2 separate regions of the Homo sapiens genome follow, and region 1 is linked to region 2. A link means that fine-mapping ties the variant in region 2 to the expression of a gene that starts in the linked region. Tissue or cell type: nucleus accumbens. Region 2 holds a variant in brackets; the other region holds the start of a gene. All regions are shown on one strand. Distances are between the middles of the regions.

The links. PIP is the estimated chance that this variant, and not a neighbour inherited with it, causes the effect.
Region 1: IGFL2 starts here. The variant in region 2 is the best candidate, but not a certain one, in a credible set for the expression of IGFL2 in nucleus accumbens (GTEx, PIP 0.83).

What each region holds. Positions count from the first base shown.
Region 1 is chr19:46,144,648-46,152,754 of GRCh38, forward strand. It overlaps IGFL2 (IGF like family member 2), which reads left to right and starts at 3,591. Exons shown (of 4, transcript NM_001135113.2): 1 at 3,591-3,650. The coding sequence starts at 3,632.
Region 2 is chr19:47,020,398-47,028,504 of GRCh38, forward strand. It overlaps NPAS1 (neuronal PAS domain protein 1), which reads left to right. Exons shown (of 12, transcript NM_002517.4): 2 at 609-772; 3 at 1,215-1,450. The coding sequence starts at 651. Among named protein-coding and RNA genes, the nearest start is that of NPAS1, 4.6 kb to the left of the region's middle. The variant A/T (reference allele first, on the strand shown) is at 4,611.

The DNA of each region.
Region 1 (8,107 bases), 880 kb before region 2:
TCAGTTTCCACACCCTGATTTTATTTTATTTAAAAACATACAGTAAGTTGACTGTTTTCTATGCACAACTTAATGGATTTAAACACAGGTATAGATTCATGTAGTCACGATCAAAATCAGGTTACAGAACAGTTCCATCACCCCAAACCCAACCCCAACCCCTGGCATTCACTCTTTCCTATAGTTTTGCCTTTCCTGAGTGTCACAGGAAAGGCTAAGTTGATTCTTACCTATGTAATTGTTGAGACCAACTTCTTGTATCTGACACGGTGCCTTTGAGATCTTGCCAAGTCATGGTGTATGTAAATAGTTCCTTGTCTTTTTATTGCTCAAAAGTTTCCATTGTGTGTGTGTACCACGGTGTGTCTCCCATTTCCCCTGTTGATAGATATTTGAGTTGTTTCCACTTTTTTGCTATTACAAGTAAAATACTATGAACGATTGTGCTTTTTTGGTGGGAACATAAGTTTCATTTCTCTGGGATAAATACACAGGAGTGTGAATGATGGGTTGTATGGTAAATGTATAATTTTATAAAAACAGCCAAAATGTTTTTCGGGGTTATATATATATACCATTTTCATTTCCATCAGTAAAATATGAGAAATTCAGTGTCTTTACTTGCTTGTTAGCACTTGGTATTGTCGATATTCTCTCTCTCTCTCTTTCATATATGTTTGTGTATAATTTCATAATATCTAAATACACATACTCCGGCACTTTTTCACTTACACCCCCAGTGGCCCTCCCTCGTCCAGTCCAACACAGTCAATCCTTGCAACACCCCAAACAGGTTTCCACACGTGACTTACCTACCAGTGAGTGACCCACTCACCAGATTAAAGCCCTCCTTCCAGTAACTCTTAGTTCCTTTCAGGGTTTCTTCTCTCCACCTTCCCATCTTGCTTCCAGCTTCCCTCACTGGTAGAGAATTAAGGACACACTCATATATATGTGTGTGTGTGTGTGTGTGTGTGTGTGTGTGTGTATTTATTTATTTATTTATTTAATATATATATTTAAATTTTGCCAATTCTAGTAGATGGGAGATAGTATCTCACTGGTTTTAATTTGTAGTTCCAGTATGGCTAATGGTGTTGAACAACTTTTCATGTGCTTATTTGCTATCTGTATGTCCTCTTTTGTAAAGCATCTGTTCAGATATTTTGCCGATGCTTAATGATTTTGTTTGTTGTTTCACTTTGAGTTTTGAGAGTTTTTCATATACTCTGGATTCAAGTCCTATGTTAGAGATGTGATTCACAGACACTTTCTGCAGTTGGTAGCCTGTCTGTTGCTTCACTTAACAATTTGTTCATCAAGTTTAACTTTAAAATTTTGATAAGTCCAATCTGTTTTTAAAAAATGGATAATGCTTTTGATGTCTTTTCCCAGATATAAATGTTTTCTCTGATGCCTTCTCCTTGAAATACGTAGTTTTACTTTTCATATCTAGACCATTTGGAGTTAACTTTTGTATAGAGTGTGAGCTTTGGTAGAAGTCTTCTTTTTTTTTTTCATATGCATGCCCATTGTCTCACACCATTTGTTGAAATGACTATCTTTTCCCCCATTGAATTGCCTTTACATCTTTGCCAAAAGACAATTTACTATATTTGTTTGGGTTTATTTCTGGAACCTATTCTGTTCCTTTGATCTATGTGTCTATCCATGTCTATCCATTTGCCAATACTACACTGTTGTCATTACTGTAGCTTGAGTAATTGTGAAATTGGATAGTGTGAGTCCTCTACCATCTTTCCTCATCCAAAATTGTGTTGGCCATTCTAGTTTCCATTGCTTTTCTATATAAATTCTAGAGTTATTTTGTTTCTCTCTCAGACAAATCCTGCTTGGGTTTGATTGGAATTGTGTTAAATCTGTAGATAATTTGGAAAGAATTGGCATCTTACCTAAATTACAGATTCCAAACCACGACATGATATACCACTCTGTATTTAAGGTTTCCTTGAATACTTTAATCGTACACATCCTTTATATGTTCTCCTAGATTTACAGTATACCAGTTCAGTTTTTGGGGAGGGGGGTATTGTAAATGGCATTTTTTTTCTTTAAATTATTGTATCCACTAGTTCTTGCCAGTATAAAGGAATACAATTGACTTCTGTGTGTTTCATACGCTACAACCTTTCTAAATTCACTTATCAGGTCCAGAACTCTTCTACTAACAATGCACTTTTATAAAGCCCTAACACCTCTCCTGATCTCTGTCTCACCCTCCCACCTATCTCACTGTGGGATGGGAAGGAAGTCAATGGAAAACACAGGAGCGCATTCTAATAATAGCCCACATGGTATCCAGTGACACAAATAATAGTGATGGTGACAATAAAATAACAGTAAGAAACACAGAAGGAGCGTTTCCTTGGACAAAGCACTCCAGAAACAACAACAAAAAGGGGCTGCCTTTCCATCTATTCTATGAATCCCAGATGTCTATTTTATCACTGTCTGTTCCTTTTCTGTTCTCCCTGGCAGGGTTTTTACAGCCCCTGCTCTTTTTCTAGATTATGCTGCATCTTCACAGTTTCCCCTAAATGACTCTGAAGAATTATAGACAGTGCTGTCTACAATTATAATAATGGATATGGTGGTCCATTTCCAAGACAAAGTACCTCAGATAGGCTGAGGCCCACAAACTATGGAAGGACAGAATATACTAGGCCCATAGCTGGTGCATGCTTGTCGGGGTCCCCTTAGTTACCCTCTCCCAAACCAGAGTTTAGTCTAGAATGAAAGTTTACTAGCCAGCAAAATAGCTCACTTTATCTATTCTTATCAGCTTGCCTGACTGCCTAGGTCATAAGTCAAATACTTGAAAAGCCCTCGAGCTGGCTTTGATTGCAATGTATTATAGGCTGCAACAAAATGCAGTGAGACAATCCTAAAGAAAACACCTAAAAGCCTCAACCCAGCAACCAATAGGCGACGTCTGGGAAGATCGTGACCCCATCGTACTTAGCCTACGAGGAACCAGGGGAGAGACTTGTGCACTAGGGGATAAATAGCTTGTTGTAACCGTACTGGGTGTGCCTGCCTACCAGACATTCAATCTTGCAAGACCATCATTAAAAGTCTTGCTTCCACTGTTTTCTGTGTCTCTGAGTCCATTCTTTGGGTTTGGACGGGTGCGTTTGTTTCTCATAGTGCAGGTCTGGAGCCGGACTGAGATGGGGAGTAGAGGGACCCCTTGAAACTTCAGGGTGGATGAATATGAAGTTTCATCACCAGCTGTGATGTTTGGTGAGTAGTATGCTCTCAGATAAGTGAGAGCCAAGGAATCTCTTTCAAGTCTCTTTGCCGTGGGCAGAGTTCAAAGAATGACACTCACTCACGGCTTTGAAAGGTTCTAGGGAAGCCTTTACTCTGAGATTTCGAGAGGTCTGAGAAGGTAGCAGTCACTTGGAACAGGTCCAGGAACATCTTACTAAGCTGTTGATGCAGTTTTTTCTTATGCTTTCTGTGGCTTCTCATGCCCCACCCTTTCCAAGAGGCCAGTGCTTCTGGGCACCTCCCTAAATGTGGATAAGTTCATAGCCTACATAAGTCCCTGTATAAAGTCACTGACCCATTTGCACTGCTGCTGTCCCATCAGCTGCTCTGAAGCTCCATGGTGCCCAGAATCTTCGGTAAGGTAACCCTTGCCCCAGGTTGAGCTAATGCCTACTGTTATCCCTAATGTACCTCTGAACCTCAAACTTAATTCTCTCTTCCCTATTTAATTCTTGGTTTCCCACCTCATAATCACCCGTGTCCTCTCTGACTGCATTGCAATCTCTCTTCCCCACCTGCAAATTCCAGAAGCTTAACCCTTTCCAGAGCCCTCCCTGCATTTCCTCACCTGCCAAGCCCAATGCCCAGAACCTGCACACAGAGTCAGTCCCAAAATCTGCTCTGAGCTGTTACAGCAACCAAAGAAACTCAGAGACATCATCTTGTGCCCCATGATCATGATCTGGTGACCCCAGAATCACTGTCATTCTTCTCTCAGCTGATCTTTATTTTTGAACTCCTGGGCTCAGACTCAGAAGGGACCATAGGTGAGAATGGGTGTGGTGAGTGGAGGGAGAAGAAAGGAGGGAGGATTATAGCACTGTGGATAGGGTTGGGGGCTCCCAGAGGTCCCCTGCCAGCTCATCAGCTCTGACTCTTCCAGATATTGGACTGTGGTTGTGCCAGTTGACACTCAGGAGTGGAGACTAGATCTGCAATCTGTTGGGACTGTGATGAGGGGATCATCCTGCCCTCGAACCAGACCCAGCCCTGTAGCCCAGGCACTATTGCCTGGAGTTCCTGGGCTCTCAGCGCCAGGAAATCATGAGGTTCAGTGTCTCAGGCATGAGGACCGACTACCCCAGGAGTGTGCTGGGTAAGTAAGGGCAGCCCAGGCAGTGGACTGAGTTTTGTTGTGTGTATTCCATCAAGATGAGCAATGCCTGCTGTGTTCACTAACTTCTTTTTGGGCAACCATCTCTCTCTCTCCCTCTCTCTCTTCTCTCTCTCTCTCTTCTCTCTCTCTTTCTCTCTCCCTCTCTTTCTCTCTCCCTCTCTTTTCTCTCTCTCCCTTTTCTCTCTCTCTCTCTTTCTCTTTCCCACTCACCCCTCACCCTTTCCACCTCTCCCCCTCTTCCCCTCTCCCCCTCCCCCTCCCCTCCCCATCTCCCTGTGTCCCTCTGTCTCACATCCCCCTCTCTTCTCTTCCCCTCTCCCCTCCCTGTCTTTTCCCTCCTCTCCTTCCTTCTCTTCCTTCCTCTCTCAAGTTGAAGGAAGAGTAGCTCAGTCATCTTCCAGAATTGCTTTTTACCTCCGAGTCACCTGGCTCCATAGCCCCCGACCACCGCATGCCCATTTAGCTGTTCCTCTCTTTCCCCTCTACCCTCACCCTTGGCAACCACCAGTCAGCTTTCTGTCTCTATGGATTTACCTATCTGGGACATTTCATATAAATGGAATCACACCATTTATAAGTGACCTTTCGTGTAACTTTTTTTTTAACTTAATGTTTTCAAGGCATATCCCCATTATAGAATTTATTAGTACTTCATTCCTTTTTACAACTGAATAAATTCAATTGTATCCATGTATCAGCATTCATTTATCCATTCATCTGTTGATGGACACTTGGGCTGTTTCCACCATTTGGCTATTGTGAATAGTGCTGTTACAAACATATGTATACATGTATTTGCTTGAGAACCTGTTTTCAGTTATCTTGGGTGTACACATAGGAGTGGAATTGCTACGCCACATGGTAATTCTGTTTAACTTTTTGAGGAATTGGCAAACTGTTTTCCACAGAGCTGCATCAATTACATTCCCACCAGCAGTGTATGAGGGCTCACATTTCTCTCCAGATTCTTCAACCTTTGTTATTTTCTATTTTCCTGTTTATTACAGTCATCTGGGTGGGTGGGTGTGATATCCTGTGTAGTTTTAATTTGCGTTTCCTTGGTAAATAACAATGCTGAGTGTCTTTTCCATGTGCTTATTGGCCATTTGTATTCCTTTTTGAGAAAAGGTTTATTCAGATTTTTCCATGTTTAAATTGGGTTATTTATTTTATTATTATTTAGTTGTAAGAGTTTTAGAAGATATGCTGGATACTCATCCCTTATCATATATATAATTTGCAAATACTTTCCTCATTATGTGGATTGTGTTCATTTCCTTGATGCTATTGCTTGCAGTGCATAGGTTTTTAATTTTTGATGAAGTCTATTCTTTCTTTTCTCTCTTGTGCTTTTGGTGTAATATCTAAGAAAATATTACCTAACTCGAGGTCATTAAGACTTACTTGTATGTTTTCTGCTAGGAATCTTTTTAAGAAGTTGACAAAGAATAATTGTGTATATTTATGGGGTAAAATATGATGATTTAATGTATGTTTGCCTTGTTAAATGATAAATCAAATTAATTACCATATCTACCACCTAATATACTTATTACTTTTTGTCACTAGAACATTTAAAATATACTCTTCAGCAATTTTGAAATATACAACACACCATTTGTTTTTTTAAGAGGCAGGGTCTCACTCTGATGCCCAGTCTGGAGTGCAGTGGTGTGATCACAGCTCACTGCACCCTCTACCTCTGAGGCTCAAGTGATCCTTCCACCTCAGCTCCCAAGTAGCTGAGACCACAGGCACGCACCACCACACCATGCTAATTTTGTTTTTCATAGAGACGATGTCTCACTGTGTTGCCCAGGCCGGTCTCCAACTTGTAGGCTCAAGCAACCCTCCTCCTTGGCCTCCCAAAGTGCTGGGATTGCAGGTATGAGCCATCACGTCCAGCCCACAATACACTATTATTTATTATAGTCACCGTGCCCTGCAGTGGATCTCTAAAACCTATCTTTCCTGTCTAACTGTAACTTCATATCATTTGCTTATCTCCCTGTTGCCCATCTGCCCACACCAATCCTCTGGTAACTGCCCTTCTCTCTACTTCTATGAGTTCAACTCTTTTAGATTCTACATACAAGTGAGATGGTGTGGTATTTGTCTTTCTGTGGGTTGCTTATTTTACATTTCTGCTAAGAGTTTTATATGTTCGCTCTTGTATTTAGGTCTGTGATACATTTTGAGTTAATCCTTGTGTATGGTATGAGGAAGAGATCCTCTTTCTGCCCACTCTTTTGTGTATGAATATACAGTTTTCCCAGCACCATTTGTTGAAAAATCATTTGTTCCCTTACTTCATAGTCCTAGCACTTTTGTTGAAATTTGATTTCAACAAATCTAAGGGTTTATTTTCTGACTGTTAGTTTTATTCATTGATCTATATGTCTATCCTGTGTGTCAGCTCCTACACTGTCACTATAGCTTTGTGGTAAGCTTTGAAATCATGAAGTATCAATTCTACAATTTTGTTCTTTTTCAAGATCGTTTTAGTTATTCTCGGTCCTTTATGTTTCAATATGAGTTTTAGGATCAACTGATTAATTTCTTCAGAGAAGGCTGGGTCCTGTGGCTCATGCCTGTAATCCCAGCACTTTTGGAGGCCAAGGAAGGTGGATGGCTTGATCTCAGGCGTTAAGAGACCAGCCTGGGCCATATGGTGAGACCACATCTCTACCAAAAAATGCAAAAAATTAGCCAGGCATGCGGTGTGCGTCTGTAGTCCCAGCTACTTGGGAGGCTGAGGTGGGAGGATCACTTAAGCCTGTGAGGCGGAGGTTGCAGTGAGTCATGATCACGCCACTGCACTCCAGCCTGGGTGACAGAGTGACACTTGATCTCACAAAAGTTCTTTGATATGGATTGCATTGATTCTATAGATCAATTTGGGATTTTTGGCACCTGAACAATATTAAGTCTTCCAATTTGCGAACATGGATGTATTTCCATTTATTTACATATTCTTAATTCTTTTCAACAATGTTTTGTTGTTTTTAATGCACAAATCTTGCACCTCTTCTGTTCAATTTATTCATAAGTATTTTATTCTCTTTGGTACGTGGAATTATATTCCTAATTTCATATTTAGATGGTTTTTTACTAGTGTATACAATTGCTTTTTATATGTTGATCTCTTTTATCTTACAATCCTGTTGAATTTTTCTATTAGTCTTTAGGTCATAGTAGCTTCCTTAGGTTTTTTTTTTTTTTTCTTTTTCTTTTTTGAGACAGAATCTCACTCTATCATGCAGGGTGGCGTGCAGTGGTGTGATCATAGCTCAATGCAGCTTCGAACTCCTGGGCTCAAGTAATCCTCCTGCCTCAGCTTCCTGAGCAGCTAGAACTACAGGCATGTGCCACCATCCCTGGCTAATTTTTTTATGTTTTTATTTTTATACAGATGGGGTCTCGCTATGTTGACCAAGCTGGTTTCAAACTTCTGACCTCAAGTGATCCTCCCCACTTGGTCTCCCAAAATGCTGGGATTACAGGAGTGAGCCACTGTGCCTAGTCCTTAGGATTTTTAACATACAAAATCATGTCATTTGCAAATAGAAATCATTTTACTTTATCTTTCTCAGTCTAAATTCATTTTATCTTCTTGCCTAACTTTCATGGCTTGAACCGCCAATGCTATCTTGAATAGAGTGGTAAGAGTGGATATACTTGTCTTGTCCCTGATAT
Region 2 (8,107 bases):
GGGGTCTTCAGGGAGGAAGTTGTGGTCGTGGGGATGTGGCGGTCCGAACACGTGGCGCCATCCCGAGAGGCTGGGGGGATCCCTGGGCAGGACACAGGATGGGGGTCCCTGCCCTCTGCCCCCTGCCTCCTTAGCCCAGCCGGGAAAACAGGGTGCAGATCCGGGGAGTCAGACACCGGGGATGGGCTTGGGGGGCGGGTCCTCGGGGCAGAGGGCTCCGGGGGCTGGGGCGTGCGTGCCTGGCCCGGGAGGCGCCCGCCCCCCGCCCGGCTTGGGCATGCTTGGCACGCAGCGCGCGGGCCGGTTCGATCCGTATGCGCGCCGCGTGCGCCCATTGGTATGCGGGAGCCGGCCCGGCGCGGGCGTGAGGCGGGCGCGCTGGCGGGCGGCGCGGGGGAGGCGGCGGCGGGGCACGTCCTCACCCGGAGCGCCAGCCCCGGGCCGGCTAGGGTGGGAGCTGAGGCCTCCAGGTAGGGGAAACTGAGGCATCATCCAGGCCCCCCCCCCCCCAGCTCCTTGCTGGGACCCTGAGCCCTGCACGGATCTCAGTTTCCCTAGAAGGTCTCCCGAGGGCACTAAGCGTTGCCCCTGGCCCCCTCCCGCTGCAGGAGACTCGGGGCTCGGAGCCCGCCTGAGCGAGCCCCCCGGAGATGGCGGCCCCCTATCCCGGCAGTGGCGGCGGAAGCGAGGTCAAATGCGTGGGAGGCCGCGGCGCCAGCGTCCCCTGGGACTTTCTACCCGGGCTGATGGTCAAGGCGCCGTCCGGACCGTGGTGAGCAAAGCCCCGCCCCCCTGGCCGCGGGCCCCCCCCCGGGTCCAATTCACACCCGATGTTCTGTCCCCGTGCCAAGGGGCAGTTCACACCCAGCTCCCTGACCCGCCCCTTAGGGCTAGAAGGTCTTACCTTGAGTTAACTACCGTCCTGAGCCCGGTCCCCTGCGTTCTGCTTCTAGTCCCGGTCCTCAGAATTCACGCCCAACATCTTTAATCTCTCGCCCTTCCTCCTCCTTCCCACCAGAATTGACACTCGAGGTTCTGTCCCTGGGTCGGAGTGTAAAATCCACACTCCGGTCTGCTCCCACCTCCAGAGATGTGGAATCCACTCCCAACGTCCCGTCCCGTTCCCAAGGCCCCGGGAGGCGGGGCTCGCCCCCAGTTCCCAAGCCCCTGAGCCCCGGGGCCCCGCCGACACCTCCTCCGCGCCGCCCGCCCAGCCTGCAGGCGCAGCGCAAGGAGAAGTCCCGGAACGCGGCGCGCTCGCGGCGCGGGAAGGAGAACCTGGAGTTCTTCGAGCTGGCCAAGCTTCTCCCGCTGCCCGGCGCCATCTCCAGCCAGCTGGACAAGGCTTCCATCGTGCGCCTCAGCGTCACCTACCTCCGCCTGCGCCGGTTCGCCGCGCTGGGGGCGCCGCCCTGGGGGCTGAGAGCCGCGGGGCCGCCAGCTGGCCTCGGTGAGTGCTCATGCGCGGGGCGAGGGTCCCGGGGCCCTCCAGGCGGAGTCACTGCAGCCCAGATCCGGGCTGCGGGCCTGCCCTCGCCCAGATGCTTGTCTCTGGAGTCAGCCAGGACCTTTGCGTGTCCCTATCAGGTGGCTTCTGCTCTCCAAGCCTCAGTTTATTAAACTGTCAAATGGGCGCAAGAGGTTGGGAAGATTTCGTGAATTCTGCCCTAAACAAGGCCCTGGCAGTTCTAGTGGTCACTGGTAAATGCTATTCCTATATTTTTATTAGAGGAGAGGAATCATTATTACAACCAAAGAAACTCCCAGCTGCATGAGCGGGACAGAGGGGACTCACCCTGGCTTGGGACGCCCATTCGCTAATGGGCGAGATACCCTGGATCCAGACCTGAGGGGCCCCGGCGGGAACGCAAGGACTGTACAGTCTGAGCCCCCAGTTGGAGGAGCAAGAGGGAGACAGTATGATGTGGCGGATGAGATGGGGAACTTCAGGAAGATGCCCCAGGGTTCCTGTCGCCGCGCAGCCACCTCCCAGCTTTGCAACCCCGGGCAGGTCGCCTCACTTCTCTGTGCCTTAATGTGAAGTGGGAAAAAACGGTCCAACCTCCCCCAGGGGGCTGAGCAGAGAATCAACCAGGTCATATTTGCAAAGTCCCTGGAAGTGCCTAGCTCAGAGCAAGCCACCGCTATGCGGCCAATGCTGTTATCAGCAGTAACCTTGCAGGGCTGCTGGAGGGGTTCGGGGCATGGAGGAGGGGGCGGGGGGGCTGTCGCTTTTGGAGCATCTCCTGCCTGTCTGGCACTTTTCTGAGCGCTGGGATTGAGCAGGAGAAACAATCTAGACAAAAGTCCCTGCCCCGGAGCGGCTGGCATCCTAGTGGCCAAGACGCAATAAAGAAATAGGCAAAGCAATATAATCTAGAATATGTAAAAATATAAACTCTGTAAGATACAGATAAATATCTAAGTTTATTATTATTACTCAGACTTTATTATTGAGACATAGAAGTGCTGTTATGTTATTATTACTTCTATTTTATGTGTTTGTTACAGCTTTGCGGTGATGAGGATAAGGCAGTGTGAGTGGTGTTTATCTGAAGTCTCAGGGCACCCCAGGCTACCCCTGTCCCCACCCCTCCAGGAGAAGAGGGTGTCCTTAGGGTGGGGTTGGAGGGGCTCCAATTCCCCTCCTGCCCCGTCCCAGGGGAAGAGGGGGGAGAGAAAATAGCATTGATTAAGCTCGCAATAAATCACCATTTAAATTTAAATAATCCGGCTTCCCAGGCGGTAATTAGGCGAATTGACTGGCGCGGAGAGAATGCGGCATTAGCGCCGCTGATTACTGTCATTACCGCGAACAACATGTGCGCCGGCGGGGGATAAACATCTTGTCTATTGTCCCCGAGCTGAAGGGGGGGAAAGGGGGGGCTAAGAGAGCCCCGGCGGCGTCCAGCCCCCCATTACCTGGATGAGCATTCCGGGGCTCAGAGGCATCAGGGGCTGGCTGAGGTCACAGCACTGACGTGGCAGAGCATGGACTTAATCGATCCCACCTCGACCACGGTGCCAAGTGGAAGTAGGGTCAGGACAGTGTGGGGGGGCTTGGTACTGCGTGGACTCCTATAGTCCCAAAACTGGGAAATCGGGGGACAGAGGCATTTCTAGCTCTACAGGGTCCCTAACAAGAGGCGAAGCACCTGCTTCCATAGTTCAGAGGAGGAGCTGAGGACAGCATTTTAGCTGAAGCCACAGAGCAGAGCACTGTCAGTCACACTCTCTGAAGGGGAGGGGACTCCCATGCCCTCCTCAGTAATAAGCCGGGCACCATGGCTCACATCCGTAATCCCAGCACTTTGGGGCGCCAAGGTGGGAGGAAAGCTTTGGGCCAGGAGTTCGAGACCAGCCAGGGCAACATAGCAAAACCCTGGGCAATATAACAAAACCATGTCCCTACAAAAATAAAAATATTGGCTGGGCACGGTGGCTCACACCTGTAATCCCAGCACTTTGGGAGGCCAAGGCGGGCAGATCACGAGGTCAGGAGTTCGAGACCATCCTGGCCAACATGGTAAAATCCCATCTCTACTAAAATACAAAAAATTAGCCGGGCGTGGTGGTGTGTGCCTGTAGTCCCAGCTACTCCGGAGGCTAAGGCAGGGGAATCACTTGAACCCAGGAGGCGGAGATTGCAGTGAGCCGAGATCACACCACTGCACTCCAGACTAGTGACAGAGCAAGACTCCATCTCAAAAAATATATAAAAATAAAAATAAATAAATAAATTAGCCAGGTTTGGTGGCACCCGCCTGTAGTCCCTGATACTGAACAGGATGAGGTGGGAGGACTGCTTGAGCTGAGGAGGTCGAGGCTGCAGTGAGCCATGATCATGCCACTACACTCCAGCCTGGGCAACAGAGCAAGACTCAGTATCTAAAATAATAACAATAATAGTAATCATATAGAATGCATGCATCAGACCCTGGGATAAGCCCTGTATACAAAATGACTTTCTTGGCCGGGTGCGGTGGCTCACGCCTGTAATCTCAGCTCTCAGGGAGGCAAGAGGCGGGAGGATAGCTTGAGCCCAGGAGTTCGAGACCTGCCTCGGCAATATAGCGAGACCCCGTTCTCCAGAAAAAGGAAAAACAACAACAACAACAAAAGATAAAATGACTTTCTTTTTCAGAGGGAGGCACTATTATGATTCCCAAGTTACAGAAGTGTGTGCCCAAGGTCGCACAGCTGGGATTCAAACACAGATGACCTTGCCCCAAAGGCCGCCTCTCAACCATCATATGTGGTCTGTAGGTCTACAGGGATGGGTTCTAGGTCTCTGCCTCTCTGGGCCTCAGTCCTCCATCTGTGAAATGGGACAACAGATGTTCAAGTCTAGCCCTGAGCCTCTGAGTCTGGAGAGGAGACCGCCCAAATCTCATGTCAGCATTCCCTATTGCTTTTTTTTTTTTTTTTTGAAACGCAGTTTTGCTCTTGTTGCCCAGGCTGGAGTGCAGTGTTGCAATCTCTGCTCACTGCAATCTCCGCCTCCTGGGTTCAAGCAATTCTCCTGACTCAGCCTCCCGAGTAGCTGGGATTACAGGCGCCTGCCACCGCGCCTGGCTAATTTTTTGTATTTTTAGTAGAGATGGGGTTTC[A/T]CCATGTTGGCCAGGCTGGTCTCGAACTCCTGACCTCCTTATCCTCCCAAAGTGCTGGGATTGCAGGCGTGAGGCGCCGTGCCCGGCTTTTACAGCCTTCTTTCTTCCCATAGCACTTATTGTCATCTGACACTCTCTGTATTTATCTTGTTATTTTGTGTCATTCACCAACAGCCTCTTGGTTGCTGAGCCTGGAGTAGCATCTGGGACACAATGAAGGCTTACTAAATTGTTGAGTGACTGTGGCAGTTGAGGGAAGGAGGGGTGACATCTTTATTTATTTATTTATAGACGGAGTTTTGCTCTTGTTGCCCAGGCTGGAGTGCAATGGCATGATCTCGGCTCACTGCAACCTCCTTCTCCTGGGTTCAAGCGATTCTCCTGCTTCAGCCTCCCTAATAGCTGGGATTACAGGCATGCGCCACCACGCCCAGCTAATTTTGTATTTTTAGTAGAGATGGGGTTTCTCCATGTTGGTCAGGCTGGTCTCAAACTCCTGACCTCAGGTGATCCGCCTGCCGCAGCCTCCCAAAGTGCTGGGATTACAGGTGTGAGCCACCGCACCCAGCCCTTTTTAAATTTTTTTGAAACAGGGTCTTGCTCTGTCGCCCAGGCTGGAATGCAGTGGTGCGATCTTGGCTCACTGCAGCCTCCACCTACTAGGCTCAAGAGTTCCTCTCACTTCAGCCTTCCAAGTAGCCAGGACTACAGGCACACGCCACCACGCCTAGCTACTTTTTGCATTTTTTAAGAGACGAGGTCTCACCATGTTGCCCAGGCTGCTCTCACATTCCTGGGATCAAGTGATTTGCCAACCTTGGCCTCCCAAAGTGTTGGGATTACAGGTATGAGCCACTGTGCCCAGCCAAGGGGTGACTTCTTAGCTCATAGGTCAGGCACATCCTCGCTGAGGAAGTAACGTTTTTTTGTTTTTGTTTTTTGTTTTTTTTGAGACAGAGTCTTGCTCTGTCACCCAGGCTGGAGTGCAGTGGTGCGATCTCAGCTCACTGCAACCTCCACTTCCCAGGTTCAAGCGATTCTCCTGCCTCAGCCTCCCAAGTAGCTGGGTTACAAGCACACGCCACCATGCCCAGCTAATTTTTGTATTTTTAGTAGAGACAGGGTTTCGCCACGTTGGCCAGGCTGGTCTTGAACTCCTGACCTCAGGTGATCCATCCACCTCAGCCTCCCAAAGTGCTGGGGTTACAGGTGTAAGCCACTGGGCCCAGCCAAGGAAGTGATCTTTGAGCTGAGGCTCCAAGGAGGTGTGGGAGCAGCTGTGAGAAAAGCTGGAAGAGAGTGACTCAGCAGAGGGAACAGCAGGTGCAAAGGCCCTGAGGCAGGTGGGGATCAGCTTGCTGGGTGCAGAGCCTCATGCACTGTGGTAGGGGTTTGGCTGTTACCCACAGTGAGAGGGGAGCCACAGAGGTGGTGAGGGCGGAAGTAGGAGCCCAGTGAGGATGAGGACGTGGTGGTCCAGCCAGGGCAGCTAGACTGGGCTGGGGCCATGGGTGGTGGAACACAGGTGACATGGTCAGGTCCAACCCCTGGGACTTGCTTAAAATGCATGTGGGTGTGAGAGACACAGAGGGCGGCCTCCAAGAAACCGCCCGAAAAGGCAGTGGTGCCCTGATGTTATCTGTAGTCATACTGAAAAGAAAAGTGCGGCCGGGGCGGTGGCTCACACCTGTAATCCCAGCACTTTGTGAGGCCGAGGCAGGTGGATCACCTGAGGTCAGGAGTTCAAGACAAGCCTGACCAATATGGTGAAACCCCGTCTCAACTAAAAATACAAAAATTAGCCGGGCATGGTGGTGGTGCCTGTACTCCCAGCTACTTGGGAGGATGAGGCAGGAAAATCACGTGAACCAGGAGGCAGAGGTTGCGGTGAGCTGAGATCCTGCCACTGCACTCTAGCCTGGGTGTCAGTGCTAGATGCCGTCTCAAAAAAAAAAAAAAGAGAGAGAGAGAATGGTGGCATGACTCCCAGTATTAGGCACCTACTGTATGCACTAGCCCATTCAACTCTATCACTGTAGACCCATTTTACAGATGAGGCTGAGGAAAGTAAAGGCAAAGGTGACCCGGCACTGCCCCACCCCATGGTGCTTGCCCCCATGCAGCCCTCAGGCCTGCGGCGCTTTGACGATGGGGCATGTGAGGGACCCCTCTCCCCGACTTCCCTGGGTGATGAAGCCCCAGCCTCTTCTCTCCAGGACCCAGGGTCAGCACATTCCTTCAGGGCAGTTGAGAAGGGCAGGTGACGGGGGAGATCTGGGAACTTGGAAGAGGCCTTGGCTTCTGCCTTCTGCCCCTGGATCCCCCTCTCTCTGCCCCAGGTCCCCCCTCTCTCTGCCCCAGGTCCCCCCACACTCTGCACCCGGTTTCCCCCTCTCTCTGCCCCCTGGGTCCCCCTCTCTCTGCGCCTGGTCTCCCTTCTCTCTGCCCCTGGTCTCCCGTCTCTCTGCCCCTGGTCTCCCGTCTCTCTGCCCCTGGTCTCCCATCTCTCTGCCCCTGTTCTCCCTTCTCTCTGCCCCTGGTCTCCTGTCTGTCTGCCCCTGGTCTCCCTTCTCTCTGCCCCTGGTCTCCCGTCTCTCTGCCCCTGGTCTCCCGTCTCTCTGCCCCTGGTCTCCCGTCTGTCTGCCCCTGGTCTCCCTTCTCTCTGCCCCTGGTCTCCTGTCTGTCTGCCCCTGGTCCCCTTCTCTCTGCCCCTGGTCTCCCGTCTCTCTGCTCCTCGTGCTCCCTCTCTGCGCAAGAGATGAGGACACTGAGCAGGCTGTGATAAGAACCACAGCAAGTGTTTGTTAAATGGATGAGTGATGTTTGGGTTCTGGACATGGGAGGGCGGATGTGGAAGTGGTGAAAAGTCTCCTGCTGAATGTGGGGGACAGAGGAGTGGGGACATTTTGAGGGGAGAGGGAGAGGAGGAAACAGCGGGAGGCATCGGGGAGTTGGTGGGATCGGGAGGTGGAGGCTGGGGGTAAAAAGACACATCAGTCAGTGATCAGGAGACTCTGGGGGTCCCTTTCACAGGGGACCGGACCCGTGTATGGGGAAGAGCAGGTCCCCAAGCCCCCCCACCACCACACCCCCTAATCCCGACGTGCCCATTAATGTTGTTAATTGCAGCGGTTCAGTCTGACCCAGGCTGATCCTGGGAGAGGGAAAATGAAGGAATTAGCAAAAATGACAGGGGAAAATTGCGACAATTAGCAGGCAGCATTGTTCCTGCCTGTCACCCGGCTGGTTCCGAGCTGTATCTTGAGGGAGGGGGTCCCCGTCAACCCCCCAGCCCCCCAGTAATTGTTCCTGGAGCTCCAGGCGGAGGTGGAGGCAGGGAGGAACAGCCAGGAGGGTGTGGGGTACTCCTGGGAGGAGGAAGCTCAGCCCAGACACTAGGGGGCTGGGGAGGCGGGGGCTGCGCGCCCATGGGGGAGGGGCGGGGTTTCGCCGCCTGGTGTTTTGATGGTCGGGTAATAACAATAGTAATCACACTA